Linked DNA regions of Homo sapiens. The protein of the gene in region 1 purifies or fractionates together with the protein of each later gene. This does not show direct contact. Each region holds a gene or a part of one and is shown in the gene's direction. Other genes may lie near its edges.

What was found.
Region 2: the proteins of PPP1R9B (region 1) and SNX33 purify together in Homo sapiens (affinity purification with mass spectrometry; 2 studies listed by BioGRID and IntAct, with this or other methods). This does not show direct contact.
Region 3: the proteins of PPP1R9B (region 1) and MCM10 purify together in Homo sapiens (affinity purification with mass spectrometry, with the first as the bait; 2 studies listed by BioGRID). This does not show direct contact.
Region 4: the proteins of PPP1R9B (region 1) and WDR48 purify together in Homo sapiens (affinity purification with mass spectrometry; 3 studies listed by BioGRID and IntAct, with this or other methods). This does not show direct contact.

The regions. Positions count from the first base shown.
Region 1 is NC_000017.11:50,140,678-50,147,677, reverse strand, and holds part of PPP1R9B (neurabin-2), read left to right. Parts: intron 1-2,432; coding exon 2,433-2,565; intron 2,566-3,959; coding exon 3,960-4,080; intron 4,081-6,304; coding exon 6,305-6,409; intron 6,410-7,000. UniProt on the Homo sapiens protein: Seems to act as a scaffold protein in multiple signaling pathways. Modulates excitatory synaptic transmission and dendritic spine morphology. Binds to actin filaments (F-actin) and shows cross-linking activity. Binds along the sides of the F-actin.
Region 2 is NC_000015.10:75,650,682-75,657,974, forward strand, and holds part of SNX33 (sorting nexin-33), read left to right. Parts: intron 1-6,280; coding exon 6,281-6,534; 3' UTR 6,535-7,293. UniProt on the Homo sapiens protein: Plays a role in the reorganization of the cytoskeleton, endocytosis and cellular vesicle trafficking via its interactions with membranes, WASL, DNM1 and DNM2. Acts both during interphase and at the end of mitotic cell divisions.
Region 3 is NC_000010.11:13,164,433-13,171,725, forward strand, and holds part of MCM10 (protein MCM10 homolog), read left to right. Parts: intron 1-6,489; coding exon 6,490-6,831; intron 6,832-7,293. UniProt on the Homo sapiens protein: Acts as a replication initiation factor that brings together the MCM2-7 helicase and the DNA polymerase alpha/primase complex in order to initiate DNA replication. Additionally, plays a role in preventing DNA damage during replication.
Region 4 is NC_000003.12:39,082,853-39,090,145, forward strand, and holds part of WDR48 (WD repeat-containing protein 48), read left to right. Parts: intron 1-1,302; coding exon 1,303-1,410; intron 1,411-1,792; coding exon 1,793-1,889; intron 1,890-2,662; coding exon 2,663-2,758; intron 2,759-3,448; exon of another isoform or gene 3,449-3,532; intron 3,533-5,275; coding exon 5,276-5,381; intron 5,382-6,378; coding exon 6,379-6,466; intron 6,467-7,293. UniProt on the Homo sapiens protein: Regulator of deubiquitinating complexes, which acts as a strong activator of USP1, USP12 and USP46. Enhances the USP1-mediated deubiquitination of FANCD2; USP1 being almost inactive by itself.

The DNA.
Region 1 (7,000 bases):
AGTTTGGATCCCCCCACCCCACCCCCACTAATTTTGCGAGAAGTCCGATTCCCTCAGAGTTGGAGTTTGGTCTGGGCCTCTGACTGTCTATATTTGACGCCTTACCCTGATTTTTCAGTAAAAAATAGCACATGATTTGGAGCAGTGCTTCCCGGCTCCCTGGTGACTTTGGAGCTGGCCCGCCCTGTGTGAGAGCCAGCGTGTGTGGCGGGCCCAGTGTGGCTGGCTTTCAGCCTCACTGGGGATTTCCTCCTCCCCACCCTGGCACAGGGGCCCCACTTTTTCTTCTTCCTGCCCCTGCCTTGATGCCAAGTCCAGGGTCCCGGTCCCCATGGATGACCCAATTGTTGCCCTTCTGGAGGTGGAGGCCTCTGCTGAGGGCAGAGAACCCAATTCCAGCTTGGCCTCAGGGAGGTGGGACCTCCCCTAGGGCCCTCTGCTAGACCGGCATATCATGGTGGGCAGCCCGAGGAGGGGTAGGAGGTGGTCTGGGGCCTCTGAGCCCAGGCCTGGGATTCCTGCAGGCGGCAGGACCAGAAAGGGAACAGGATTTGATAGGCTGAGAGAAGAGGGCAGGGTGCAGCCCAGGACAGGCTGTGAGGTGTGTTTTGGAGGTCACAGCGGGCGTGTGTGTCCATGTGTGTCAGGGAGGGGTTTCGTTGACTCAGGAGACTGTAGAGACTCAATGATGAAGGGACCGTGTCTCCTAGAGCAGAGGGTGAGAGTCAGGGGACTCCAGTGCAAAGTGGGCCAAATCCCACTGCTGAGTCCAGGCTCACATCAGCCCTGTCCCAGAGCCTGGGGCATGTGTGCAGTGGAAACCAAGTCACCGGTGACCCACCCACCTGTCCCAGCTGGGTGCAGTCTCATTCTGCCTGGCCACAGTTTAACCCATGTGACCTTGGGCAGTGGGCCTGGTGCCCTGGACTATGTGCAAGGTAGGCAGCCTGTTTGTTCGAGGGGTGCAATGGACAGATGAGCTTTAAGGGCTGGAGCCAGAGTTTCTCTGATGCTGTGAAATTGAGGGCATTGAGCTAAGTGACCAGAGGGGTCCCTCCCACCTAAGCCTTCTAGTCCTATGAGCACCCCCTCCCTCTCCCACTGTGGCAGTGAGCCTCTCTGGTAGGGGGTGGGGACGACACGGAGCAAACCCAGACAAAGGCTGGGACACGAGAGTGCTGCTGCCCACCAGGGTGCCCACAAGGTCTGCTCCTGGAGGAGACGGGCCCTGACAAGGGCCCTTGGGGGAGATGGGGTCCTAGTCTGACTCCTCGGGGCTCAGACTCAGCCAACTGATAGAGCTGTTCCCCATCCCTCCCCGCCCCCGCCTGGCTCCAAGTGGTGCCAACCTGTCACTGCAGGCGATGAAGCTTGAGCATGTCATGGTACCCCAAATGGTGCTCATTAACCTCCCACTGGGGGCACCCCTGCCTGGGCCCAGAATTAGACATTCCCACAGAGCCCAGCCCCACCTTCTCTGTCCTTCTGAGGGAGTCAGAGCTGAGGAATTCCTCTTTTTGCTGAGAGACATTGGAGAGAGACAACAGAGGGGTACAGGAGATGCCAAGGCAGGGGTGGCCTCGGAGCCCCATGGCGCCTGGGTTCGCTGTGGGCAGTGTCAGAGGCTGTCCCCTCCTCAGTCTCCTGGGCCCCCTAGCACATGGACAGGGGGCGTAACTTAGAGAGCTGCAGTTGTGGAGGGAGAGCGGCCTGGGTGTGCAGGGAAGGCCAGGCCCAGCTTTTTCCCCTGCTTCTGCCACCCGAGGGGCTCCTGGGGATGGAGGGCCTGCCTCTTCTCCACGGGGATAGAGATGGTCTTTCCTGCTTCCCTCCCCTGCTCCAACATCCACTTGAGCGGCAAGTCAGAGCCAGTCCTGGGTACCTCTCCCCTTCCACCCCTCCTGCTCCCCTCCTCCTCTTCTGTCTCACACCCGCTCCCCCCTCTCTCCCCATCTGGCATTCTCCAGCATCTTCTCCATCCTCTCTCCCCTCCTCCTCTTCCCCTCTTCTGCTCAGCCTGTTCCTTCCTCTCTGTGTCTGTCTTTGTGTCCCCTCTCGCCTGTCTGGCTCTCTGGGTCCTATCTCTCACTTTCCCTCTATCTGGGTGTCTGGGTTCCTGAGTTGGACGTTTCTCCAGGATTCCCCTTCTGTGCCTATGGCAGACCATGCTCACGCTGGTTGGAGCTACAGAGAGAATAGCAGTGCGGGTCTGCCAAGGCTGGGTCCCTTTCTGTCTTGACCCTGGGCTCCAGAACTATAAGGGCCTTTGTTTTGCTCAGAGCTGGGGTCTCAGGGGACTGGGTGAGGCCTCATCTCAGGGCTATCATGGGGAGGCATGGGGTGGGTAACTCAGCCTGCCTCCTCGGCCTCCTCATGCCAGTTCTGCACTTGTCCTCCTGCCGGCCTCTCTGACCAGCTGCCTCCCTCCCCAGGTGTTCAGCACTTACTCCAACGAGGATTACGATCGTCGCAACGAGGATGTGGATCCCATGGCAGCCTCTGCTGAGTACGAGCTGGAGAAGCGTGTGGAGAGGTTGGAGCTGTTCCCTGTGGAGCTGGAGAAGGGTGAGAGGCCAGGAGGCCACGTCACTTGCGCACAGCTGGGGTTGACCCGGGTCTCATCTCTGGCACCAGCTCCTGCCCTGTGCCCTCAGGGGCTCCCACAGACTTGCTGGGCCTCTCCCTCTGACTCAGGCCCTTGGTGACCTTCCCCGCTCCTCCCTTGTCAGCACCCAGAGCAAACAGGGCCTCCAACCCAGGCCAAGCCACACCCCCACCACCCCGGTCATGGAACCACATTTGCACATTCAGTTAACAGGTCTCTGTAGGGTACTGTGTGCTAGGTCCTGGGCTCTGTGTTGGGGACACAGTGGTGGGCTCCTGGGGAGATGGATGGGGGAGGCAGACATGGAAGGCACAGTCACATCTAATCTCACCCTTAGGCGCTGGAATAGGGGCTGGGGAAGGTAAGGAGGGGCCACTGTAAAAGCGTTTAACAGGTGACCTAACCAGACTGTGCTTGGGGGCATTCTCCAGGGAAGTGAAGCTTGAGTTGCACTCTGGTGAGGAGGAATTAGGGGAGTAGTCAGGAAAGGGGCTTGGCTGCATTTGCATAGGGAGGGCAAGAAGAGCATGCAAATGAGGCCTTGCAGACCACGTGGTCTTGTTGCTAAGATGGATTGGGAGCCATTTCGAAGCACAGGAAAGGTCTAGAAAGACCACACCAGGCTGTGATGTAGGGAGGGGGTCACAAGTGGATGGAGAAAGGCCACTGTGGCGTGGACAGGAAGATGGCAGAGCGGGTGTGGGTGGACTGGAAAGATCTCCAGGGGTAGAATCCATAGCATCTGGGGGTCATTTGGCTCAGGTGGAGGCTGTGAGTGGGAGGGAGGAATCCAGGTGCCTCCCAGGTCTGGCAGGTGGCAGGTGGTGGTACCATCCCCCATGAGGGAGTGTTTGTGGGGGAAGGTCATTAGTTGGGACATCAGAGGGCCATGAGTCAGGCAGGGGCAGGTGTGGATAGGGGAATGGACCTCAGGGGAGAGAAAATCTGGAGGTCTTTGGTCCTTGAAGCTATGAGTACAGATGAGACTGGCTGAGAGGGAGAAGACCAAAGGCTTAGGGCTGAGTCCCATCCTGGCTACCCCCATCCTGGCTACCCCCATCCTGGCCACACGCCCTGGTCTGCATATGCAACAGTCTTACCTGCCTGTGCCACCCTTGGCACGCTCTTCTGCCCATTGGTTCTTTGGAAGGGACAAAGGGCAGGGAGCGGCTCAGGAGCCATCCTAGTAGACTTGGCAAAGACGGTGGACAGAACTATATCCCTTCTTCAGTTGTGGGACATCCCCTAATGGGGACTGCTTCCTGATGGGGGGGCTGTGCCCTGGAATTCGGGGTGGAGAGTCTCTCGTCTGTCCCCTACAAGCCCTGCCATCTCACCACTCTCTGTTCCACAGACTCCGAGGGCCTGGGCATCAGCATCATCGGCATGGGCGCCGGGGCAGACATGGGCCTGGAGAAGCTGGGTATCTTCGTCAAGACCGTGACGGAGGGTGGTGCGGCCCATCGGGATGGCAGGTACCAATCCTCCCCAGTCTCGCCTGACCCTTTTTCCCTCTCCGACCGGCCATCCTTGGTGGGGTGGGCCACTGAGCAGGGGGTGGGGCGGGCCTTCCCTGGGAGATTTCCGTGCTGTGTGTGCAGCTGAGATGTTCGGGGAGCACTGCCATGCCAGGTGCTGTTCCAGGCCCCAGAAATACAACAGTGAGCACTGTCAGCCCCTATGCCCTGAAGGAGCGTGTGTTCTCCAGGAGGGGCTGGTGACCATGGGGGCTATAGGCGTGTGTTGTGCATCCCGGTCTGGAGTACAGTTTGGGCCCTGGTAGGGAGAAGACAGGCATGGAGTATATTTGAGCTTTTTTTTCGCTGGACATTGAGTCTCTGACAGTGTTGGGCCGGTGCTGGGCCCTGGGAAGTCAATGGTGAGGGCCTGGCGCACTTGAGAAGTGTGCAGTGTGGTGTGAGGTAGACATTGAATAAATGGACACACAAAAGGTAGTGAAATGGAGGGAAATGCAGACTGCTGTGAAGGCATACAACAGGAGGGTTTAATCTCTCTGGGCATTAGGGAAGGCTTCCTGGAGGAAGCAGTGCTGGAGCTGAGAGCTAAGGCTGGAGCAGGAGTTAGCTGTGCTGAGGGAGTGAGTGCAGAGGTTCCAGGCAGTGGCGCCATGAGCAGGCAGGTGTGGCTGGGGCATAGAGAGCAGGGGCCAGGAGGCTGTGACTAGACCCATTGATGGCAGTGGCTCTGGAGACAGGCTGTCTTTGCGCATGTGAGTGTGTGTGCCTGTATTGAGCATCTGTGGTTGCAAGGGGTGAGTTCTGTGGGACAGAAGGTTCAGGGAGGGCATCCTGGAGCTGTGTGCCAGCCAGGGACCCCTGTGTTAGCTGTGTATTCCAGGGGTGTGGGGAGTGGCAGTAGGAAGGGCTGTAGGGCATCCCCCAGGGTGGCTGTAAGTTAGAGGTGACATTGGGGATCTCTTGTGGTGGTACCTCCAAACCCAGACCCCCTCCATGTGACAGAGGTGAGCAGGTGTCCTTTGGGATCTGGGTGACTTTGGGATCTTGTTTCTAGAGATGGGGCTGCCCTGTCAAGGGGCTTCTACCTGTTGTGGCCCAGGTGGCATGGAGAGGGGCCGGGAACAGGATACCCTTTCATTTACCCCTTCCCCTCCCAATGTGAACTTCCAGAGCCTTTCCCATTGTTGCCTGTGGGTTGTCTAAGGAGTGAGTGTGCATGGTGGCCGTGGCCACTCACTCATGCCCACCTGGGAGTGGCATGTGTTGGGGTGAGCTGTTGACAATAGGCCATTTCCTCCATTTCCGTGTGGGAGTCCTGAGAGAAGGCCTGGAGCTCCCAGGGAGGTGGAGTGGAGGAGGGAGGTGTCTGAGAGGCCCCCCACCCTCCATCTCCCTCAGCAGGCCAGACTGAACCTCCCCTTGTATGGAGAACACGGGCTTCAGGGGACACAACTGGAGTGTGTCGGCAGGTGCACCTGTATCAGGTGTGTGTGGGACAGTGTGTGAACTCGAGAGAGTGCCATTCGGTCTTGGGGACTTGGGAGGACATCTGTGCACTCAGTTCTGTGCAGAAATGTACACGTAAGAGGGTGGCATGTCACTTGTGTGCTGTGGGGCTCCTGGCCAGTGTGCATGGCAGAGATGAACTCTGAGAATGTCACACCGCTCAGTCAAGTATGATGAAGGAGGGGACAAGAGTGTGATTGTCACAGGAAGTGTGCCTGCCGCGTCTCCTGGTCCTGGACGCCTGTGTCTGCTTTGCTTGCCTGGCTCTCACTGCCCACACAGGTGGGCCTGGCTGACACTTAATCCTCTGGCCTTGTGAATGTTACGCAGGTAGACAAAGTACCAGGTCCCTGTGAGGACAAAGTATCTGTGAGGTTTTTTGTTGTTGTTTTCTTTTCTTGTTTTTTTTTGTTTTTTTTTTTTTTTGAGGCAGGGTCTTACTCTGTTGCCCAGGCTGGAGTGCAGTGGCGCAAACACAGCTCACTGCAGCCTTGACCTCCCTGGCTCAAGTGATCCTCCCACTTCATCCTCCCAAGTAACTGGGACTACAGGCACGTGCCACCATGCCCAGCTAATTTTTCTTTTTATTGTTTGTAGAGATGAGTTCTCACTATGTACTCAGGCTGGGGAGCCTGGAGTTTCTGATGGGAGGAGGCTACCTCTACCCTCGCTCCTCGGTTCCCCTGTGACCCCTTAACCAATGTCACTCCGCTAGGATCCAGGTGAATGATCTCCTGGTGGAGGTGGATGGAACAAGTCTGGTGGGAGTGACCCAGAGCTTCGCGGCGTCTGTGCTCCGGAACACCAAGGGCCGAGTGCGGTGAGAGCCCAGAGGGGTGGGGCGTGGGAGCGGGCAGGAGGTCCTCGTCCAGGCACTCCGTTCACCTGCCTTAACAGCCAGTTAAGGTTCTGGTGGCCCAGCTCACAGAGGTTCTGCTGACTCCTTGGCTGCAGGAGTTGCTGTGCCTGGAGTCCCTCGCCTCACACCTGCCTTCTCATCCCAGCTCCCTGGCAACAGCTGGCCACCAGTACTCAGCCTTCCTGGCCCACTGTCCACCAGCCCTCCAAACTGTCCTCTAGGGCTTCTTCTCCTTCCCCCTACCTGTCCCTGACTCACTGACTGAAGAACCAGGACGTCCAGGGTGAATGCTAACCATATTGGGGTCCCCTCATTGGGACCTCATGCCCCCCACCCCGACCAGCCCTATGTCATCCTGGGAAGACTCCGCCCCAGGCCTGTAACCAAGGGGACTGGATCAGAAGCTCCCTGTGTCCACTCTACCTTTGGCTTAACATTCAGGGATCACTCCCTGCCCCCCTGCAAGAGGGGTACTACCCCCAGGAAAGGGTGGTGGAGAGAAACAGGATGTGGGTGGCCACCGGGAGGAGGGGCTGGTGCCTGGAAGTTCCA
Region 2 (7,293 bases), on another chromosome or scaffold:
GTCTCAATCATTCATTTAACAAATGTGTTGGGCTGGGCACGGTGGCTTACGCTTGTAATCTCAGCACTTTGGGAGGTTGAAGTAGGAGGATCACTTGGGCCCAGGAGGTTGAGACTACAGTGAGCCCGATTGTGCCACTGCACTCCAGCCTGGGTGACAGAGTGAGACCCTGTCTCTAAAACAAACAAACAAACAAACAAACAAACAAATGTGTTGAATATCAACTCTGTGTCTGTGGCAAATGTGCTTCTAGGTGCAGGGATATTGTTGTGCACAGGCCCGGTCTCTGTCCTCATGGAGCTTGATATTTACCTTCTTGTCAGTTCATTCATTTTCTCTGTTTGCATCTCGTTTACCCATCATGCATGGTGTCATGCTGGGTTCTGAGAACACATAGATGACCAGGCCCCAGGCCTTGCCCTTGAGGAGCCGGTAGGCCCTTGGGAGACACAGACCCAACCCAGATAACAAGAGCTCAGAGTGGGGGCCTGTCTTGTGCTCCTTGCAAGTTAACCTCCCCACCTTTGCAGCTTTGGAAGCTACTCTCACCACTGTGTATTCTCTTTATGAGCGTCTTGTCTGTGTGCAGGAAGATCCCTGTCCCCATTTTGCAGATGAAGGAGCTAGTGTCCACAGAAGAGTGGTTGCACAGCCTGTGGCCCGGCTGGGACTGTCCCTTCCTCCTGCCACCTCCCCAAGGACACGTCCATGTTGGCCACTTCCCAAGCCTAGCCATGTTTTCAGTTCTCATGACCCCCTCTGTGGGGGAGGGACAGGATGGGCCTCTGCCTGTTACTGCTGGGGCTGTCCATGAACTGCCGGGGAAATGACTCATCCTGGGTCACACAGGGGCACTCTGGCTGGGCCAGGGGTGCAGAATCAGGGGTCCAGGGCACTGTCCACATGGCCTATCCAACTCCTGCTTCCCAAGCCTGGCTTCTCTTCTTGCCTGAGGAGAGAGCCAGTGGCTGCCCCAGCAGGTGCCTGAGTCCTGGGCACAGCTGGGAGGGCAGATGTCAGGAGAGAGGTGTGATCCTCCCTGGGGCTGCTTGGTAACTCGTCTGCAGGGCGTGGAGCTGGCTCCCTGGCCCTTGGGCCCTGAGGTTAGACCTGGCTTGGTGGGGAGTTTGACTCTGGGTGGGGCCAGGGGGCAGACCTCTGCACTGAGCCTGGGGAACAGGAAACATGTCACCCACCACCACCAGGGAGGGCCTGGGGTAAGCTGGCCTTGCTTTCCTTTACCAAGAGGTTGACTTCTATAACTTCTCCAGCTCCCAGCCTCCTTTCTCCCCTTGCTATATCCTCTTCCTCTTCCTTTCTTTCTGTTTTTTTTTTTTTTTCTCTCATCTCTACCTTTCTTCCTCCTCCTCTGAACTCCAGGAAACACAAACCTGAGTGCTAGTCTTGGCTCTGCCCCTAGATTGCTGTGCGTCCCCGGGGAGTGCCTTTGCCCCTCTGGGCCTTAGTTTCCTGATCTGTAAAACAAGGGAATGGGGTCCCAGTGAGCCATCAGGCCTTCAAGGGAGTGGGTGGGAAGGGACTCCTGGGGAGGGTATGGCTCAGAAACAGAATGACACCTTAGCTCTGGCTCTGAGCACTGGGGCAGGAGTAGGGCAGGGGAGGTGGCCAGGCCTGCTGGGGGCCCACTGGGGCAGGTGTCTCCCTGAGCACAAGTGGGAAGGCTGGTTCAACCAGCTCCTTAGATGGCTTGTTCCTGTGCAGGCAGCAGGAGGGGGAATGCAATGATTAAACAGATGCTCCCATGCAGTGGCTGGGGACCCCCCACCCAGAGCAGAGCTGAGGACATTAGGGCAGCCCCACACCTAGGAAGGACACCAGGGCCTCCCAGGCTGGGGGGAAGCCAGACCAGCCTTTCTGACCCTGGGCAGAGAGACAGAGCTGAGATAGGCCATTTCTGAGTTTCTACTTGAGGTGTTTCTAAGAGTCAGAGGCCACTGTCCTCTGTGCTGGTGCATTTGACCTGAAACAGAGGCCAGCCCACTGCCTTCCCTCCCCGGGAGGACCCCTCCCAATGGGCCAAGCCCTCTCTGGCTTACTCTAAGTTCTGGGCTCTGCACTGCTCCTCCCAGGCCTGTGGTGTGGGGCAAGTTAGGGAGGGGGTACTGAGACAGAACTGGACAGGCTTTGGGGACCACAGCCCAATGGGAGTGATAAGGAGGGGGTCCTAATGCTGGCCTTAGGGGTGGAGCCCTTCTCAAAGAAAAGAGAAGAACAGTTGGGTCCTGGGCCCCCAGGATTCTGTCCAGCCTGTCTGGACATCTGAATGGGTGGTGAGTGTGTGGGAGGAAGGACAGTGGAGGCCTAGGTGGGAGTCAGGAGACCAGGATTTGGACAAACTTTGCATCTGACATGACTTTGGGAGAGATTTCTCCCCTCAGTCTCTAGGTGAGTAAAATGGGACCCGAGGGTCTTCATTTCCTTAGGAGGGCTCCATGTCATGTGAAACTTACATTAAACAAATTTGTATGCTTTTCAGAAAAATAATAAAATGAAATAAAATGGGACATAAACCCTGGCTGGAGCTGAGAGGAGCCTGGTCCTCCCACGGGCCTAGTCCCTGTAGCCCAATCCAGGGGTCTCCTAAGAGAAGGGTAACCATATAATTAACCAGGGCAGTTTGGGGCATAAAAGGGGGCCCTAGCAATAGTGATCCCGGGACAACAGGGGAAAGTAACTGTCCAGGGCAAGCTGGGACGTATGGACCCCCAACTTGACAGCCAGCAAGAGCGGGGCTGGTCCTAAGGCTCACGACAGGTCAGGAGGGCGATGTGGTCACTTCCGTTTTACAGACGAGGTGCAGCGATGCAGATGAGCCTCAGAGCAGGAGCTGGAGTCCAGTGTGTCTGGCTCCGCAGCCCAGGCTGTTTCCACTGTGCCCTCCCAGATGGGGGAGGGGATCCCCAGGGATGGAGAGCTGAGCCAGAAGGCGAAAGAGGAGGGAGGAAGGCTTGGGTGCTCCTTCACTGGTCCTGTGGGCTAGAGAGAGGCCCAGGACCACAGAGCTTCCATGGAGGGGCCATAGGGACAGCGTGGCCAAGGCAAAGTGGCGACTGTAGGGACAAGTTCTTGCCTGGGGGATGGGTGGGTTCAGCCTCTGGGTTCTGAGCCATCATCTAGCCTTCCCTCTACCGCTCATCCTGTAATCTCAGCACTTTGGGAGGCCGAAGTGGGCGGATCACAGGAGTTCGACACCAGCCTGGCTAACATAGTGAAACCCTGTCTCTACTAAAAATACAAAAAAATAGCCAGGCATGGTGGCAGGTGCCTGTAATCCCAGCTACTTGGAAGGCTGAGGCAGAAGAATTGCTTGAACCCAGCAGGCGGAGGTTGCAGTGAGCCGAGATCAAGCCACTGCACTCCAGCTTGGGCAGCAGAACAAGACTCCATCTCAAATTAAAAAAAAAAAAAAAAAAGAAAAGAAAAGCAGTTTTCAAGCCATAACATGTAGCATCTGGAGCTTCTATTGTATCTCAGGTGCGCTCCTTTGAACTGTGTACATATTAGTTCAGTTAAGCCTCAACTATACTATAGGGCAGGTACTATTATTATCCCATTTTACAGATGTGGAAACTCCTTAAAGCACTATACCGTGTGAGAGGTTGTCAACAGCATCACATCTAGTGCAACCTGTCCCACTGGGCAGTGGGGAGACCTGGAGCCCAGGCAAGAGCAGTGGCTTGCTGGAGAGGATACAGCTAGGACTAGGACTCAGACCTCCTGCTCCCTCCTGCCCCCAACCTGGGGTGGATGTTAACTGTCTCCAAGAGGCAGGGGCAAGATGGATTGAGGTGGGAGCTTAGGGAATATCCCTGGGACTTGCAGCTGGTGGGCTCCAACCCTCCTTTCTGCATTTTTGGGACCCAGCCTGTAAGAGGAGTGCTGAGGCAGGAGGTCCCCCTGGGTCCTCAGCTCTCAGGTTAAGTCTTAAGTAGAATGTCGGGGGGATGCTGGACAGGCCTGAGCCCTGACTCCCAGCCTGTGGGGTGGGGTGCATTAGCATTAGCTGGTCCTGGCCCCAGAGCTGAGTCACAGGGTGGAGGGGTAACGGAGAACAGGGTGGGGCCTCTGTTTCCCCCCGACCTCTGCAGCCTTTGCTCCCCATCCCTGGCCTCCTGCCTGTCTGTGGATACCTAACCATTGCAATGGGTTCATTCTTACTCTTTGGGCTCCTCATCAGCAAAAGAGGCCTTTCCTTCCTCTAAGGCCATGGACAGGAAAAGTCTATAGATGCACTTCCACTGTGCCAACTTTCTCGGCAGGTGGAATCCAGGCTAGTTCAGTATCTCCTCTTTAGCTAGGTTCCTTCTGCGGAAGTTTAACTCCAGTTTCTTCACCCTGCTGTTTTCTACCTTTCTTCTTACGGTTCTTCCTACTCCTTGGGACCTTCTTGAATCCCTGTGTCCAACGTCTGGGGGCCCCACACATATGCCTGAAGGACCTGGCATGGGCTCCCTGCAGCAGAAGTGGTGTCCGACCCCCAGCTGTGGAGGACCAGGCAGGAAAGAGGCTGGGAGTCCTGGGCAAGTTCCTGCCCCTCAGGGCCTTGGCCTCCTCTGTACAGTAGTAGGATGGAGGTGGAATCGAGGGTTGGACACCTGATCTTTTGGGCCTTTCTAGCTCTGAAGTCTCTTACTGGGTCCTATCCTGGGCCTTGGGGTGATCCCCCTTCTGCTGCCCAGGGCTGGGCTGTTGAGATGGTGCAGGAGGTGGTCCAGGGAAGGTGGCAGAAGGACTGAGTGGGCTGGGAGCTGGGGAATGCAGATTTCTTTTGGGCGCTGTGTGAGCAGCCCTGGAGACTCTCTGAACTTGAGTCTGTTTGCCTGAAATGCTACTATTAGCCGATTAGCCATGCACTTATCAACTAACATGGATGTTGCCCCTTCTAAAGGCATCCAGAGTTATTCCCAGCATGTAGAGCCCTGGGCCTGATATACAGTAAGTGCTCAATGAATGCATTTAGAATGCACTGGACAATTTGAGCCAGGGAGTGAAGAGAATATTATCTAGACAGCCCTCAAGAGCCCTCCTTAAAGGAGAAGTGGGAAAGCATGGGTATTGAGCATGCTATCTGTGTGTAGTGGGTGCGTTTGCAGTGCTCAGGGGTGTGCTGTCCTCTATGCCAACCCTTCCCTGCTCCTAATCTTCTTTGTATGGTGGATTCTCTGCAGCCCTCGGCGACTGAGTGCCAGGCACAGGCAAACTTCCTTCTCTTCCCAGCAACTGTCCCCACTGGCTTAAAGGCAGAATTCGTCAAGTCCCTTTTAATTCAGAACTGAAATTCATTCACCAGCTGCTTGTTCATTCATTCAGATTCTTCTAAATTGGGTCCTCTGCCCAGGTTCATCTCCACCCCCCATCTGTCACCTGGTTATTACACAACCTCCTCGAGTTCCCTGGGGGCTGGGATGAGGAGGGAACAGGGCGTGCATGTCTGGGAGATACACCAGGTGGCCTTTGAAGAGTTGTTTTAGAATCAGCAGTGTGATGGGGGTGGGGGTGGGGAGCCAGGGCACAGGTGACATGGGAGAGACATTCTGTCAGGGGAACTGGGAGAGGCTCCAGTGTAGAAGTGGCACCTGATCGGGGCCATGAATTATGAATAGGAATCCAGGGGGCAGAGGTAGGAAGGTAGGAAAGAGCCAGGTGAGTTTGACGAACATGGGGGTCAGTGTGGAATGCGTGCAGGGGCCAACTCCCAGAGGTGAGGGCCCCCCAGGCCAGGCAGATTGGTGTGGACCTTGATCTGTAGGTAGTGGAGAGCTAGGAAAGGTGCCCAGCTTGGGATACCTCTTTAGATGCTGCAGAGAACCTGTCAGAGGCTGGGGCGGAGGGCAGGGAGACGTGGCGGGGCTGTTGTAGCAGTCCAGTGAGGGACAGGGTTGAATCAGTTCAGCAGGCCTATATCAGGATCTGCTGTGGGCCAGGCCTTGTTCTGGGTACCAGAGACACAGAGAGGTTGAGGACAGGCTCTATCCTCATTGAATTCATAGTCCATCAAGCAGGGCTGTGACTGGTCACATGTGGGCTACTGGTGGCACTGCACATTTGGAGAGAAGATGATGTGCTTGGTTTAGGAGGTGCTGAGGGTGATGGCTTGGGTAACATCCTGGCAGAGACACCCAGGTGGCTGGAATGTGGGTCTGGGGCTCAGGAATGACGTCCGAGTTGAGCTGATGAGGGTGCTGTCTGCCCTCAAGGGTACAGGGAGCACATGGAGATCAGAGCCCTCACACGCTGTCCTCTGCTCTGCCTATGCCAGGCGCCTTCGCCAAGGTGAAGGAGAGCCAACGCATGAGTGACGAGGGCCGCATGGTGCAGGACGAGGCAGACGGCATTCGCAGGCGCTGCCGCGTGGTGGGTTTCGCCCTGCAGGCCGAGATGAACCACTTCCACCAGCGCCGTGAGCTCGACTTCAAGCACATGATGCAGAACTACTTGCGCCAGCAGATCCTCTTCTACCAGCGGGTGGGCCAGCAGCTGGAGAAGACCCTGCGCATGTATGACAACCTCTGACCGCGTGTGCCTGGGCCCCCTCCTTCCCCTGGGCCTGGTCACTGCAGTGTACCCCACTTTCCCGACCTCCCTATACCAGCAGTGACTGGGGGAGGGGTCAGCGGTGGGGGAGATAAGCGGCCTGTCCTGCCTCCTGGGAGAAGGAGCTTTCAAGGAGTCATGGGTGCCCCTGGGAAATTCCCCACTCCTTAGAAGTGGGGCACAGCAGGGGTGAGAATAGAGTCAGGAGCCCTCGAGGCCAAGGCCTGGGCTGCCGGTCAGTCAGTGAAGGTCAGGCCAGGGTCTCAGCCTCCCCTAGAGCCTATTTTGCTTGCTCACCTGGCCACTGCTGCCTTATCCATTCAGCAGACACCGAGGCCTGCTGCACCCTTGGGTCGGATGCTGGGCACCCAGGGCTGTGACATGCCTGCTCTTCAGGAGTCCTCAGTGAAGGTCGGGGTCAGACACAGACAGAGTCAATGCAGTATGACTGATGTTTAAGTGAGGGATTTCTGGAAGCTCATAGAAGGGACCACAGCATTCCACTGGTCAGGGAAGACTCCATAGAGTAGGCAACATTTGGGCAGTGTTTTGAAGAATGACAAGGGCCTGCCAGACAGTACATGGGGGAGAAGGACTTTCAGGGGAGAGGAACAGCATGGGCAAAGTTATGGAGGCATGCAAACATCTCCCTCTTCTCTCCCTTACTTTCCAAGCAAGTTAGGTACGCTTTCCATGGGGATTCTGGCCTGTGTGGTAGGAAGGGATCTCCCTTGCTCC
Region 3 (7,293 bases), on another chromosome or scaffold:
CAATAGCTGGTAGGTGTACAGTGGGCCAGGCACTGCTCCAAGATCCTTGTGGAAATTAACTGATTCAGTCCTCAGGCAAACGTATTTTATAGGCAGAAAAACAGGGATGTTTAGTAACTTGTCACAGTTCAAGCTGGCATAGCAGGGCTTTGAACCAGGCAGTCTGACTTCAGAGTTTACATTTGATAATGAAATCTGCTGAAGCGATATTAGTCTAGCTCTGACTTAAGTTTTTATTAATATCATCCTTTCTAATTTTGTTCATTTTGCAAGGATGTGTACAAAATGTTTACCTAGAAAAGAGATGTTGCACTAATTAGCGATCACCTAAAATGATTGTGCTGGGCTGGACGCAGTGGCTCACGCCTGTGATCTCAACACTTTGGGAGGCCGGGGTGGGAGGATTGCTTGAGCCCAAGAGTTCAAGACCAGCCTGGGCAATAGAGTGAGACCTCATTTCTATTTTTAAAAAATTAAAATGATTGTGCTGGTTGTGAAGAGATCTAGTTGCATAATTGAACTCATAATCTGAAACTGGGTTTTTTTAAAAAATTCAAACATATTACACTTTGCCCTTTAAAACAAAACTTGAAATTCCTCACACTGTGATGCACAGTGGACCCCCGTTGTCCCTGAGAGATGTGTTTCCACACTCCCAGCAGATGCCTGAAACCCAGGATGGTACCAAACCCTAGGCATGCTGTGTTTTTTCCTGTACATACATACGTGTGATAAAGTATAATTTATGAATTAGGCACAGTGAGAGATGAACAACAATAATAAAATGGAACAATTATGACAATATACTGTAATAAAAGTTATGTGAATGTGGTCTCTCTCTAAAGTATCTATTGCACTCTCAAAATATCCATTGTACTGTCCTCAACCACAGTGACCATGGAAAATCAAAACCACAGAAAATAAACCCTCAGATAAGGGGTTATTCCTTATGTGAAACTCATTGCCTGATGCTATCATGGTAGTTTCCTGTTTCTTAAAATTGGCAAATTGCCTACAGGGCAGGTTATATAATACAAAGCATCACTTTTTGCTATCAGATTGACATGAAAATAAGAGGTGAATGGATACCTGTTCTCTAAGAAATCATAGTATCTATCTGGAAACAGTATAGGTCAAGAAAGAAGAAATCATAATGTTTAGGCTGGGTGCGGTGGCTCATGCCTGTAATCCCAGCACTTTGGGAGGCCAAGGTGGGTGGATCACCTGAGGTCAGGAGTTCGAGGCCAGCCCGGCTAACATAGTGAAACCCCATTTCTACTAAAACTACAAAAATTAACCTGGTGTGGTGGCATGTGACTGTAATCCCAGCTACTCAGGAGGCTGAGGCTGGAGGATCACTTGAATCTGGGAGGCAGAGGTTGCATTGCATCGAGATCCCACTACTGCACCTCCAGCCTGGGTGACAGAGCAAGACTCCATCTGAAAAAAAAAAAAAAAAAGAGGAAAAAGAAATCATAATATTTAGTAAGAAAATCTCATTTGATTGGCATGGGTTCACAATTTGGCCGGTGTAGAGGAAATCGGAGACTGTATGGTACTTGGGATATACTGTTGAACAATGTTCCTGCTTATATTTTAGTGGAGGGAGAAAGATAACAAAACAATAAACGGGTAGTTAGTAGATGGGAGACACTGCTATGTCTTTGTATGCTGACAGGAGTGCTTCAGAGGAGAGGGAGAAACTGGGGATTCAGGAGCCAGAGAGGTGGTAATTGTAGAATGAAGTCTTTGAGAAGCTGAGAAGTGGGACCCAATGTAAGAATGTAAGTGGAAGAATTGGCTGTGAATAGCACTAGATACTTAGTCCCAGGAGGGAAAGCAGAGAAGATACGTTCAGAGTTGGGAGTGAAGGATGAGGAAGTCTGATTACATCTATTTTTTCTGTAAAATATAAGCCAAGGGCTGGGCGCTGTGGCTCACGCCTGTAATCCCAGCACGTTGAAAGGCCAAGGCAGGTGGATCACCTGAGGTCAGGAGTTCGAGACCAGCCTGACCAACATGGAGAAACCCCATCTCTACTGAAAATACAAAATTAGCTGGGCGTGGTGGCACATGCCTGTAATCCCAGCTACTCGGGAGGCTGAGGCAGGAGAATCACTTGAACCTGGGAGGTGAAGGTTGCAGTGAGCCGAGATCGTGCCATTGCACTCCAGCCTGGGCAACAAGAGCAAAACTCTGTCTCAAAAAAAAAAAAAAATACATACATACATATATATATATATATATATATATATATCATCAGCTAAGAGTAAAGAGTGGGGAGTGGGCATAGGAGGTTTGAGGAGAGACAGTGTGAAGTGGTCAGAGCCTGGGAAAGCGAATGAATTGAGGAAGTGTGGGAATCTTTAAGCAGTGCTGAATGCTTGTTTGTTATGGGTGTGCAAAAATTTAAAGTTAGACTGAGGCAGGGTCTTGTTGATCATACCTGTAGTCCCAGCACTTTAGGAAGCCAAGGCAGGAGCATCGCTTGAGGCCAGGAGTTCAAGACGAGACTGGGCAACATGGCAAGACCCCATTTCTACAAAAAAATATTTAATAAGCTGGGCATGGTGGTGTGCACCTCTAGTCCCTGCTGCTTGGGAGGCTAAGGCAAGAGGATCGCTTGAGCCCAGGAGTTTGAGGCTATAGTGAGCTAAGATTGCAACACTGCACTCCAGCCTGTGTGACCCTGTCTTGAAAAATAAATAAATAAATAAACAAACAAAAAAGACCAGTCAGCATGGTAGCGAGTCTTTCTCCAGGACCATTCACCAGCCAGGGAGCTGAGTCTTTAGAAGGCAGTGAGTGATGATGGTGTTGAACATGGATCCACAGGGAGGGCATTAGGGGCAGGGGGTGATGGACAGGAAACACATTGTAGGTAGGCTGATGGGTTAGACATGTGGATGAAGCTGAAGAGCTGCTGGATGTGAATACTAGAGTGAGCGGGCTGAAAGGATGGGAGGTTGGATCACAGAGGGACGTTCAGAGGTCAGTTGTGCTTTGCTGTGATGAGTTGGAGTTACTATGGGAGTGGGTAGCTAAGATGGGGAGTGGATGAGAAACCCAGCGACCAAGATGTTGGCTGGATCATCCTTGCGGAGGTTGAAGTGCCCCAGGAGGGTGATAACAGTAGAGATGGAGGGGAGGACCGGGGGGGGCATGCATGATACACATATGATGATCAGCACATGACAGTGCCATGAGGGGTTCTTGATGCCAGCGTCTGGTGTCTTGAACTTCAGAGAGCTGTGATCTGGAAAAAGACTGAATCATTCCAAAGTGACAGTGATAAAGAAGACATCAGGAACCTGAAGTTGATCAACAAGTATTTGTTGCATGCCTAATACGTGCCGAACACTATTCTAGACATTGCCATGTGAGGTGTGAACAATTAAATGCTTTCCATTCAAGAGGCTTCCAGGGGTAGCCAGATTTCTGTTGTAAGAGCCACTGGGGATCCGAGAAACGTGCTGATAGTAGATTTCACATCCCAGGGGTTTGAGAACAAAGAGGCTGGGAGATTGAGTCAGCGTAATACAGAGAAGACATGATTTTTGGTGGTGACTGAGGTAAACGGGGTTGTGAGGCACCATGGGATTAGCCCTCGTTCTCTTGTGAAGGGTTCAAAGTGAATAGTATGGGGTCCCCAGGCAGCATTTTCCACCTGTGGCCCCCAGTGGTGTGAGCCAGAGCCTCTTCCCGGGGTGTGCCCTCTTTGGCAGACGGGAACAAGAGATGGTGGAGGCCTCTTTGCTTCCTTGCAGGCATGTGACATTCTCAGAGCACAGGGGGCTGCCTGGCCTCTTCTCTCTTGCACTGTGCAGCCTTGGAGTCTTTGTGGACTAAGCAACTCAAGCTAATCCTTATACAACCTCTGACTGAGCATTAGGCCCCATCATCAGATTCTAGGCCTGAAGTTTGGCTACTGGCTTTTTCCTTCTGGTAAGGGAGTGTAGAGTGGTGGAAAGGATATTGGTTTGCTGATCTAGAGATTCCTTATTAACCCAGCTCCTGAACTGATCTGTTTCTCCATGTGATCCTGAACAAGCCCCTCACCCTCTCATACTCTAGCCCCTGAATTTCAGACAAGGAGAGTAGGTCAGATATCCTTAATATTTTTCCATTGAATACCTCTGATTTTATAAACAAATAGTGCCCAAATAGGGGGGAAAAAAGAGCAAAGAAAATAGATAAATCAAGAAAGAAGAAATCCGATTGGCAAATAAACAAACAATTCTTAACCTCACCAGTAATCCAAGAAATGCAAATCAAAACAGTGAGATGCCTTTTTAAATCGTCCATCAGATTGACAAAAAAATATTTAAGTGACACATCAGATATTGATGAGGTGGTGGGGAGAAGTGGCCCTTGTGTACAGCTCTAGTGAGAGTGATACAGATGATAGCAATTATTTAGGGAGATAGTAAGGGCAACAGAGTCCTCAGCAGAATTTCCCTTTTAGCAAAAAGCAGCCCCCAAGTAATTTCTAACAAGGCCAGCCAGAAAAATCAAGCGGACATAGAAAAGCAAGCTAGTAATTTGCACGGATGAATACCTGCAGCTGTGCCAATAGGAAAAGGCTCCCTGGGGGCCAGGCGTGTTCAACATGGCGGCCCTTTTTCTGTGTCAACCACGTGTACAGTAAAGAAACAGACAATATGGCGCTGGCCAGGTAGAGAACCACCTGCATAATAAAAGATTAGGGTGGGGCAGCCAGGTTTTCCACCCTATGCAAATGGCATACCTAGTCCAGCCAATCTTTTATGTCCTGTGTAAATCAGACATTGCGTCCTCAAGCTCGTCTATGAAACCCCATGCATTTTGCCATGGACGCGGCAACCCATTTCTCTGGGACCTCTCTGCTGCCGAGAGCTCTTCTCTTTCTTTTGCCTATTAAATCTCTGCACTTAACCTCACTCCTTGTGTGTCAGCATCCTTGATTTCCTTTGCATGAGACAACGAACCTCAGGTATTACCCCAGACGAACTATGCCATTTCAAGAGTGCATCCACTTTGAGAACAATTTGGCAGCATCTAGCAAAATTGGAAAACGTGGATACCCAGCAATCCAGCAATTCCATTTCTGATAGATATTCCCAAGAAACACATGTGCGAGAAGACGGATACACGATTACAGCGTATTTAGTAGTGGGGAAAAATTAGAAATAGCCCATATTGTCCTTTATTGGAAAATGGATTAATGAGGTGTGATACAGTCTTATTATAGGATACAATATAGCAACGAAAAGAAAGAAACTAGAACTATATGGGGTTTTTTGTTTGTTTTTGAGATGGAGTCTCGCCCTGTCACCCAGGCTGGAGTGCAGTGGTGCGATCTCGGCTCACTGCAACCTCCACCTCCCAGGTTCCATCAATTCTTCTGCCTCAGCCTCCTGAATAGCTGGGATTACAGGCACGGGCCACCACGCCCAGCTAATTTTTGTATTATTAGTAGAGACGGGGTTTCACTTTCTTGGCCAGGCTGGTCTTGAGCTCCTGATGTCAGGTGATCCTCCTGCCTTGGCCTCCCCAAGTGCTGGGATTACAGGCGTGAGCCACCACGCCTGGCTAGAACTATATGTTTTGATTTGGGTTAATCTTACAAGCAATGTTGAATGAACCTGGAATGCAGAGTAATGCAGTGTGGAATATTTATGTAAATATTTTTAAAACCATCTAATATAGATTGACTATGACTGCCTATATATTTATGTAAAAGCATAAGAATGGACTGGAATGATGCCTCAAAATTATGAAAGTGATTACAATGGGAAGTGGGGGCAGTGGTCAGGAGTTGGGATAAGATTTGGCATGACAGACTTCATCTGGAAGGTGTTATTTAATGTTAAAGGCAAGAAGCAAACAACAAAATGTTAATGATGGCTAATTCTGGGTGATGGGATCTTAGTATTTTTTATATAGTTTGTATCTTTTTTTTTTTAAATCTCAAATAATTTGAAGGTCAGGAATTATATACATCTAAAGCCTAAATCTATGTTTGGTGTTTTAAAATTATTCCCTTGTTGGTTGAATTTCATGGAAGTCGGTGTGCGGGAAGCTGTCTCATTGATTGGAGTAGAATGCTTGAGGACATTTGGCCCCGTGGCTGGCCCACTCTACTCACTAAGCAGTATTGGCTCCTTCTTAGCCCAGTGTCCCCTAAGAAGCACCTGGGGACAAGAAAGATGGAGACAAGGAGAACAAAGACCAGGCAAAATGGTGCATCTGTAGGTTTTTGTTTTTTTTGTTTGTTTGTTTGTTTGTTTTTTTAGTTTCAGCTTTCATTTTAGATTCAGGCTTGTTACAGAGATGTATATATAGTGTGATGCTGAGGTTTGGAGTATGGTTGAACCCATCACCCAGGTAATGAGCATTGTACCCATTAGGTAGTTTCTCTTACCCCCATGGGGTCATTTAAATTGCCTAAAGTTGAATGTTTGGAATTAGCCGTGCTTATTCTCTGTCCTTTCTCTTCTTTTCCCCTAGAGGAGGAAGACAATCTGTCTCTGCTGACCGCACTGCTGGAAGAAAATGAGTCAGCCTTGGATTGTAATTCAGAAGAAAATAACTTCTTGACGCGGGAAAATGGCGAGCCCGACGCATTTGATGAGCTCTTTGATGCCGACGGCGACGGTGAATCTTATACAGAAGAGGCTGATGATGGAGAAACAGGAGAGACAAGAGACGAAAAGGAAAATCTGGCCACTCTCTTTGGAGATATGGAGGACTTAACAGATGAAGAAGAAGTTCCCGCATCACAGTCAACTGAAAATAGGGTCCTCCCTGCTCCTGCCCCCAGGCGAGAGAAAACGAATGAAGAGTTGCAAGGTGCCCTAACTACTTGCCTTCCTTATTTCTTTCGGATAAGTTGGATGAAGACCACCAATCTGATAGTTGTCATCAAAATAGCTGCTGATTCAAGGGTAGAGATAAATGACTTTGTAAAAAAAGAAAAAAAGAAAGAAAATTATATGAGTTGGTAGATGAAATGTTTGGGCCAGCATTTCAGCACAAACTATAGACTCTATCAGTGTCAGCCAGCTGCACTTGATCCTGTACGGAATGGCTCTGAAACTTTTCATATTTCTTATGGAATAGTAGCACTTTGGGATGTATGTGGATGTGGAGCCAGAGACAAGGTTGCAAAGCTGCCACATATCTATTTGAGCAGAGCATTCCTGAACAGAAGCTTTGACACATGTTCTTTTCTCATTCCTGGCATCTCATACATGTTTAAGCTATAGTAAAATTCAATGGTTAGCTGTTTCTTCTAATACAGAAGCCAGCATT
Region 4 (7,293 bases), on another chromosome or scaffold:
TGTGGGTTACAGTTTGATGTCATAGGAAATGTCAGAGTTTCCAAGGGACATATGTAGACTGAGAAGAAACTAAGTCATCAGTCTTTCAGGGATGTTGGGAAAAGAGGAAGCCACAATAGTATATGATTTTAAAAAGTTGCGGGGGAGTAAGAAAATGAAGAGCCAGTGGCAGCTCCAGAACTAATTGAGTGTTTCAAGAAGAAGCTTGCGGTTAGTGGCATTAACCTGCTGTGAGTTGATTTAAGATGTGACTAACATCATGGATTTAAATAAAGAGGGTGGCCTCTGGGTAGAGTCTTAAGGGCAAAAGCCAGGTAGAGTGAGTTGAGTAGTGATTTGAAGGTGAAGAAACAGAAAATTTGACTGGATAATCTTTGAAGAAATTTGATTGGAGGGGTAGGCAGGAAGCGGCGGAAACTAGAGAAGATGTAGGAGTCAGAGGGCCAAAGGAAGCTTTTGATTTTGTTTGGTTTTGTTTGGATATTTGGGTATTTTTCAGATGTAAGAAATTTGAGCATATTTCATTGCTCCTGGGAAGAAGCCAGTAGAGACATTCATGGGTAGATGACAATACAAGGTCATCCCAAGAAGCAAGAGGTGAGGGGGACCGGAGCACAGTCAGAAGGGACACCGTTTTCCTTGCACCAGGGAGAATGATAGAGAAAGTTAAGGGGATTCTGTCAAGGCTTCTCTTTGTTTTGAGAAAAAGGAATCAGAGTCATGTGCTGAGGATAATGGGGAAGGTGGCAAGGTCAGAGGTAGAAGAGAGATTTAGTTGAGATGGACTGCAAGACAGTGACCCCAGGGCTCAAGTCTCCAGTAAATGAGGGAGAGTGGCAGGTTGCTAGATGGCAGTGAAGGAAAGGTGTACCGTTTACTGTTGCTAAATGACATAGGCCTCAGAGAAATAAGTTTTTACATGGGAGATGGTAGAGTAATGGTCTCCATGGAGCATCAAGGAACAATGGGATGTGGGAAAATAAGCAGTCCCCCTTTGAGAAGATGGCCGACAACTGGGACCCTCGAAAGAGCCACGTTGCTGTTAAGATGAGGTGGTATATTATATCAATATCAGCACAATTAAATACAGTTTCTTCCCAAATACTATTTTGTGCTTTTTTAATTTAAATTTTTTATAGCAGCAGATTGTTATTTTAAAAAAGGACCACATTCTTTTTGAAATGTATTTTAGACTGTTTCACTTAGACACATGTGAAAATATGTAAAATTTTGAATAGCAAAGTCAGAATCAAGTGAATTCACCACTTAATATTGATCATTATACTTTCTTTTGATGTATAGGCATGTAAAGTTGAAGATCTGGGCAAAGTGGATTTTGAAGATGAAATTAAGAAAAGATTTAAAATGGTGTATGTGCCAAATTGGTTCTCAGTAGACTTAAAAACAGGGGTAAGTTAGCAATTGATACTTGTATGATTTGGGATAATTGAAGATTTTCATTATAGCTTATAATTATTATTAGTTACAGAGTCCTGTGTTTTTAGGTGTGAAAAAAAAAATTTGTGTTAAAACTTAAAATGCAAAATGGAATAAAAAAGAAAAAAACAAAATTAAAAATATATTAAAAAAGAAAAAAATTTAAAAGTTACAAAATGCCTTTGGTATCCCAGGAAACTAAATTGTGTTGTTGCATTGAATCACACAAAACACATTTTGGTTCCTGAATTTATGACTTAGCACTTTAGTCAAATAGTACAAATAAATGAAGGTTTAGAGACTTGTTTGGAGAATATATTCAAATGGGATGCCACTAAGTTTTTTCTTTTGATAGATGTTAACTATTACTTTGGATGAAAGTGATTGTTTTGCTGCCTGGGTTTCTGCAAAAGATGCTGGTTTCAGCAGCCCTGATGGGTCAGATCCAAAATGTGAGTTTAAGTGTCCTTCATTTTTTTCCTCCCTTCTAAAGAGAAGATGAATATGAGCTGTTTTTTGCTAAGTACTTATCTTTGTAAAAGTTCTCTATATTTTGTTGACTATGTCCTAAAAATGTGGTATGTACAAATACCTAATGTATACAAATCATTTTAGTAATTTCATATGGAAATAGCCGTTTAAAGAATCTGATTCTCGGCCAGGCGCAGTGGCTCACACCTGTAATCTCAGCACTTTGGGAGGCCGAGGCGGGTGGATCACGAGGTCAGGGGATCGAGACCATCCTGGCTAACACGGTGAAACCCCGTCTCTACTAAAAATACAAAAAATTAGCCGGGCGTGGTGGCGGGTGCCTGTAGTCCCAGCTATTCGGGAGGCTGAGGCAGGAGAATGGCGTGAACCCGGGAGGCGGAGCTTGCAGTGAGCCGAGATTGCACCACTGCGCTCCAGCCTGGGTGACAGAGCGAGACTCTATCTCAAAAAAAAAAAAAATCTGATTCTCATGTTTGTTTTTAAATAATAGCTGTATCTGAACAACCAAGTAGAATATGTCTTTGCTCCATAGCATCATTGCTTTAAACATTCTAAGATAAAATTTTAGCAGAATTGGCAAAATGACTAAAGTCTTTATTTTAGACATCATTCGCATTGGGTTAAGAATGTAACATCAGAATATGTACAAACTTACAATTTTTATTCTATTTTTAGGTTAAAGCCAAGTAACTCGCTTTTCCATTTTATCTCTTTTTAATTAACTTTTTTGCAGTGAATTTAGGAGGACTTTTACTCCAAGCACTCCTGGAATATTGGCCTAGAACACATGTGAATCCAATGGATGAAGAGGAAAATGAAGTAAACCATGGTTAGTTTTTATATTCAGATAGTTGCATAAAAAGTTAGAGGTACTTACTTAAAAGGTACTTACTAAAAGGTACTTACTTAAACCGTTAGCTAAAATATTTGTGGTGTACTCAGTTTATTGTCCTCTCTTCCATATCTCAAAGTAGGAACATCCATCCAGTCTTAACTGAGACTGAGATTCCAAAAGAGCAGACCACCTTATGATATGGCTTTTAGTGAGACTGCTCAAGATAAATAAAATACTCTATATTCAGATGACTTTTGTCTTAAAATGAGGCACCTTAACAGACTTATTTCCAAAATATTCTTCAAGGTACCTCTGATCTTTTGGATTAACCTCCAAAGCTAGGTAGTTAGCTGCATCAGAAAGCCAGGTTTGTCATTGCATAGTCACTCTTCATGTTGGGCTGAAATGTTGGTATTTCCTAGTCTCATGGCCTACCTGATTTTGACTCTGTTTCAAAAAAAAATTCAAATTCCAACTCAGAAGTGACAGGGCATATGCTCAAGCATGTGTAAAGAATTAATGTCACTGAGGACATCTGAAACGTGTGTGTGCCATAGGCAGTGGCAGTAACGTTCCCTGAGCAGCAGAGGAGAACATGTTTTGAATATATGCATTTGGCTCAGTTTGATCAAAGGAAGGGGAAACAAGAACTTAGAATTTCACATCCTCATGTGTAACCTACAGCTGGTTGAGGAATCATTGAGTCCCATCGACTGAGGCTTACTCTGCTGAAGATTCTCTGCTGGCCACCAGGAGTGAGCAACAATGGCGAGTACCTCCTGCCAGGGACTTTGTTCTGGCTGTCAGATTCACCCATAATGATATGTGGAATTTAAATCTCTCACATGAGGATGACATGCTTCCTTGAAAACCAGTCTTCTGATGTTCCTGTCAGAGAGAGGGTGCTGTTGCCCCACCCATGGTGGCTTTTCTTTTACATCACCTGACACACTTTGATCCCTGTCAGAATTGTACAGTGGACTTTGAGCTAAAGAAACTGATGGAAAAATCTTTCCACAGAGGGTCAAGAAAGCTAGGTTCTGGGGTGGGCTCTGCTGCTTAACAGCTATGTTGCTGTGGGCAAATCATTTCCAGTTAGATGGGATACTCTCAGCCACCCAAATAAGCAATAAGGATTAAGTTATCAAAACAGTGGTATAGTCATGCACCCTTTGGATCTAGGCTTTGGGTGAGGAGTATAAGGAAGACATCACCAGAAATCACGTCATCCTTAACATCAGACTGCATGGGAAAGGTAGGGCAGGGCATGGCTACTTCCTCATCCAGAGCTCAGACCACAGCACCTGCAGCATACTCAGTGGACACTCTGGAGTTGTTCAGATGGTGCTTGGTGAGCAGCTCTACTATTCAGGGGCCCTTACCAAGTTTCAGGTGGGGGTACTAAAGACACATGGGTATGGTCCCTGTCCTTCAGGAGCTGATGTTCTGGTATGGCAGAGAGTTACTTATGGAAAGCATTCTGAGATAGAAGGGTGCTAGGAGAGAGGTTCCACAAATGCTATAGGATTTCAGGGGGTCAGATGCTTCCAGTTTGATGAGGAAAGTGTCATGAATGAATTGGCACTTGAGTTGGTATCACCCACCTGTGCTGGGTCAAAAGTTTATGAAGAAAGCAGAATGGAGCTAGGCGTGATGGCTCACACCTGTAATCCCAGTGCTTTGGGAGGCCTCTAATATTTGTTGACAGTGATTTTGACGTCTGTGCTTGTTGGGTCATTTACTACTTGATGGCTTATGTTTAGGCTGCCCTGCCCAGCAGCCTTGAACCCAGGAGTTTGAAACCATGCTGGGCGATATAGCAAGATCCTGTCCCTACAAGAAATGTAAACAATTAGCCAGTTGTGGTGGTGTGTGCCTATAGTTCCAGCTACTCAGGAGGCTGAGGTGGGAGGATCACTTGAGCCAGGGGAGGTTGAGGCCGCAATGATCTGTGATCACACCACTGCACTCCAGCCTGGGCAACAGAATGAGACCCCGTCTCAAAGAAAAAACAACAGTGGAAAGGAAATCTGCAGAGAACAATAAAAGCAAAATTGTGGACTCCTTGAGGATTTTTTCACAAATGCTTCTGTCTTTAGTTATGGCTGCCATTAAATGTAATTTTTTTTTCCTCAAGAAATTTTTCTGAGCTTGGTGTTCTACAAAAAACAAAAACAAAAAAACTCTAGATCTTCGTTTATATACAGGCTGTCCTAGACTTCCTTGTGGCTGAAGTAGCTGGTTATGTTTTTGTTCTGAATCTCAAACATTAATCTCTTTTATTAAAATCCTCTAAAATACAGTCATTTTTTCCATGAAATAGACCACAAGTTGCTGTGTTTCTTATTTTCAGAAATTTAACTTGTTTTTAACCTTTATTTCTAACTCTGGTGGACTTAGAGGACATTTGAATTTAATCTTGCAATGTTTGAAGCTTGTGGGAGTAAAATGTTTAGAATCTGTATTTTTAGCACTAACTCTGATATTAACACCACCTGCATCTTTTCCTAGTAAATGGGGAGCAGGAGAACCGAGTGCAGAAGGGAAATGGATATTTTCAAGTGCCCCCACATACACCCGTGATCTTTGGTGAAGCTGGAGGTCGCACACTGTTCAGGTATGGGTAAGAAAGACAAGAGGTTCTGCCTGAGAAGGTATCCCATTTGCTAAGAAGTGTCGACTCAAACTCAGTATTTCGATATTAGAAATAGTTTATTATTAAATTCTAGGGATGCCAGGGATTGGAAGCATCCCATGTCCATGAGATAGTGAAATGTCTGCTGCTGTTAGACCACATTCTAATTGGGAGGAGAAACTCTAGTGTTCGAATGAGGTAGAATACTTTGCCTCGAAGCAGCTTCTCTATTGGTTTCTGTAGGTAATTCTCACTTTCCTTCACTTTGCCCGTGTGACTGCAAGGGCCAAGCAACAGATGATACCACTAGAATTCCCTGCCCACAGAAGAGCTTCAGAGTACATTACATTACTTTTCTTAGGCTGATCCAGCCAAGATGAGCTGGGCTGCTCCTGGGAACTGTTGAGGCTGACACTGACACTGCCTGGGGTGCCAGACAGTTATGTGTGGGGCCCTTCAGGGAAGGGCTGGACTGGTTCACCTCCAAGTTGCTAGCAAGGTCCTGGTAGAGCCGGGGGAGAGCTTACTAGTCTATAGGTGCCAGAAGAAAGAAAGAATAAGACATGCTTGTCTTATTCTTGAGTGCAGGATTATCTATCTTTCTGATAGTTTCCTGAGTGGTTACCAGAAATATTCTGACTTCCACTGTGTGTGAAAGTCTCTGCCATGCACTGTGGCACTAGCTGGGGACCTTTACTGGGTGCTTTGCTTGCACCCAGGTTTCCTGTCATCACCCAAGGACTCCAAGAAGCAGCTGTAGTGTATGCCTGGCCTTGGAATCTGGGGGCCTGATTTTAGGGCCTGCTTTCCCTTTTAGCTGAGTGAGTCATTCTTCCAGGCTGTACTTTTATTTCCTCAGCTGTCAAGTGGGGGTTATCCTACATGAAAACCATGAGGGTTCCTCCCGCTAATATTTGTTGACAGTGATTTTGACATCTGTGCTTGTTGGGTTACTTACTACTTGATGGTTTATGTTTAGGCTGCTCTGCCGAGATTCCGGGGGTGAGACTGAGTCTATGCTTCTTAATGAAACAGTGCCACAATGGGTAATTGACATCACTGTGGATGTAAGTATCCTCCACTCCCACTTTGCTCTTTTATTTTTTTGTAACTCATGAAATTAAGAACTGCTTTAGACATTATAATTTTAAACCTTAATAAAAGCTAGACTCCCAAGTGGAATCCCCATCTGCTTCCTTGCAGTTCCAAAGTTGCAGAAATAGTACTGATAATTATTTATCTATCTAGCTTTGTTGGTTTTTAATTATAAAAATAATATATGCTTATTCAACAAAATAATAAATGAATGAAGCTCTCATCTTCCCCAAGCATTCATTCTTGCCCATTCACTCCCTATCCTTCCTCCCAGAGGTAACAACTATTAATAAATTAATGCATAGCCTTCAGTACTTTTTTCTTTGCATACAAGCATATATTATTTGTGTACATAGATGTGTCTACAGTTCATTTTATATTGCACAAAATCTCTTATACTGTTCTGCAACTTTTTTTTCACCTAAAAAAATGTATCCTGGACATCTTTTCATGTCTGTACATCTTTTCATGTCTGTACATGTGAATCATTCCTTTTTAATGACTGTGTAAGATTCTACTGTATAAATGTACCATAATTTATTTAATCAGTCCCCTATTAATGGACATTTAGGTTGTTTCCAATGTTTTCTATTACAAATAGTGCTGCAGTGAACATCCTTGTACATATATCTTTGTGTGCTTTTTAGGATAAATTCCTAGAAGTGGAATTGCTGGATCCAAGGTTATGCACATTTTAAATTTTGATAGATACTGCCAAATTGCCCTCCACAAAGGCTGTAGTAGTCTACATTCTCACCAACAGTGTATGAGTGCCCATTTCCCCACACCTGCACCAACA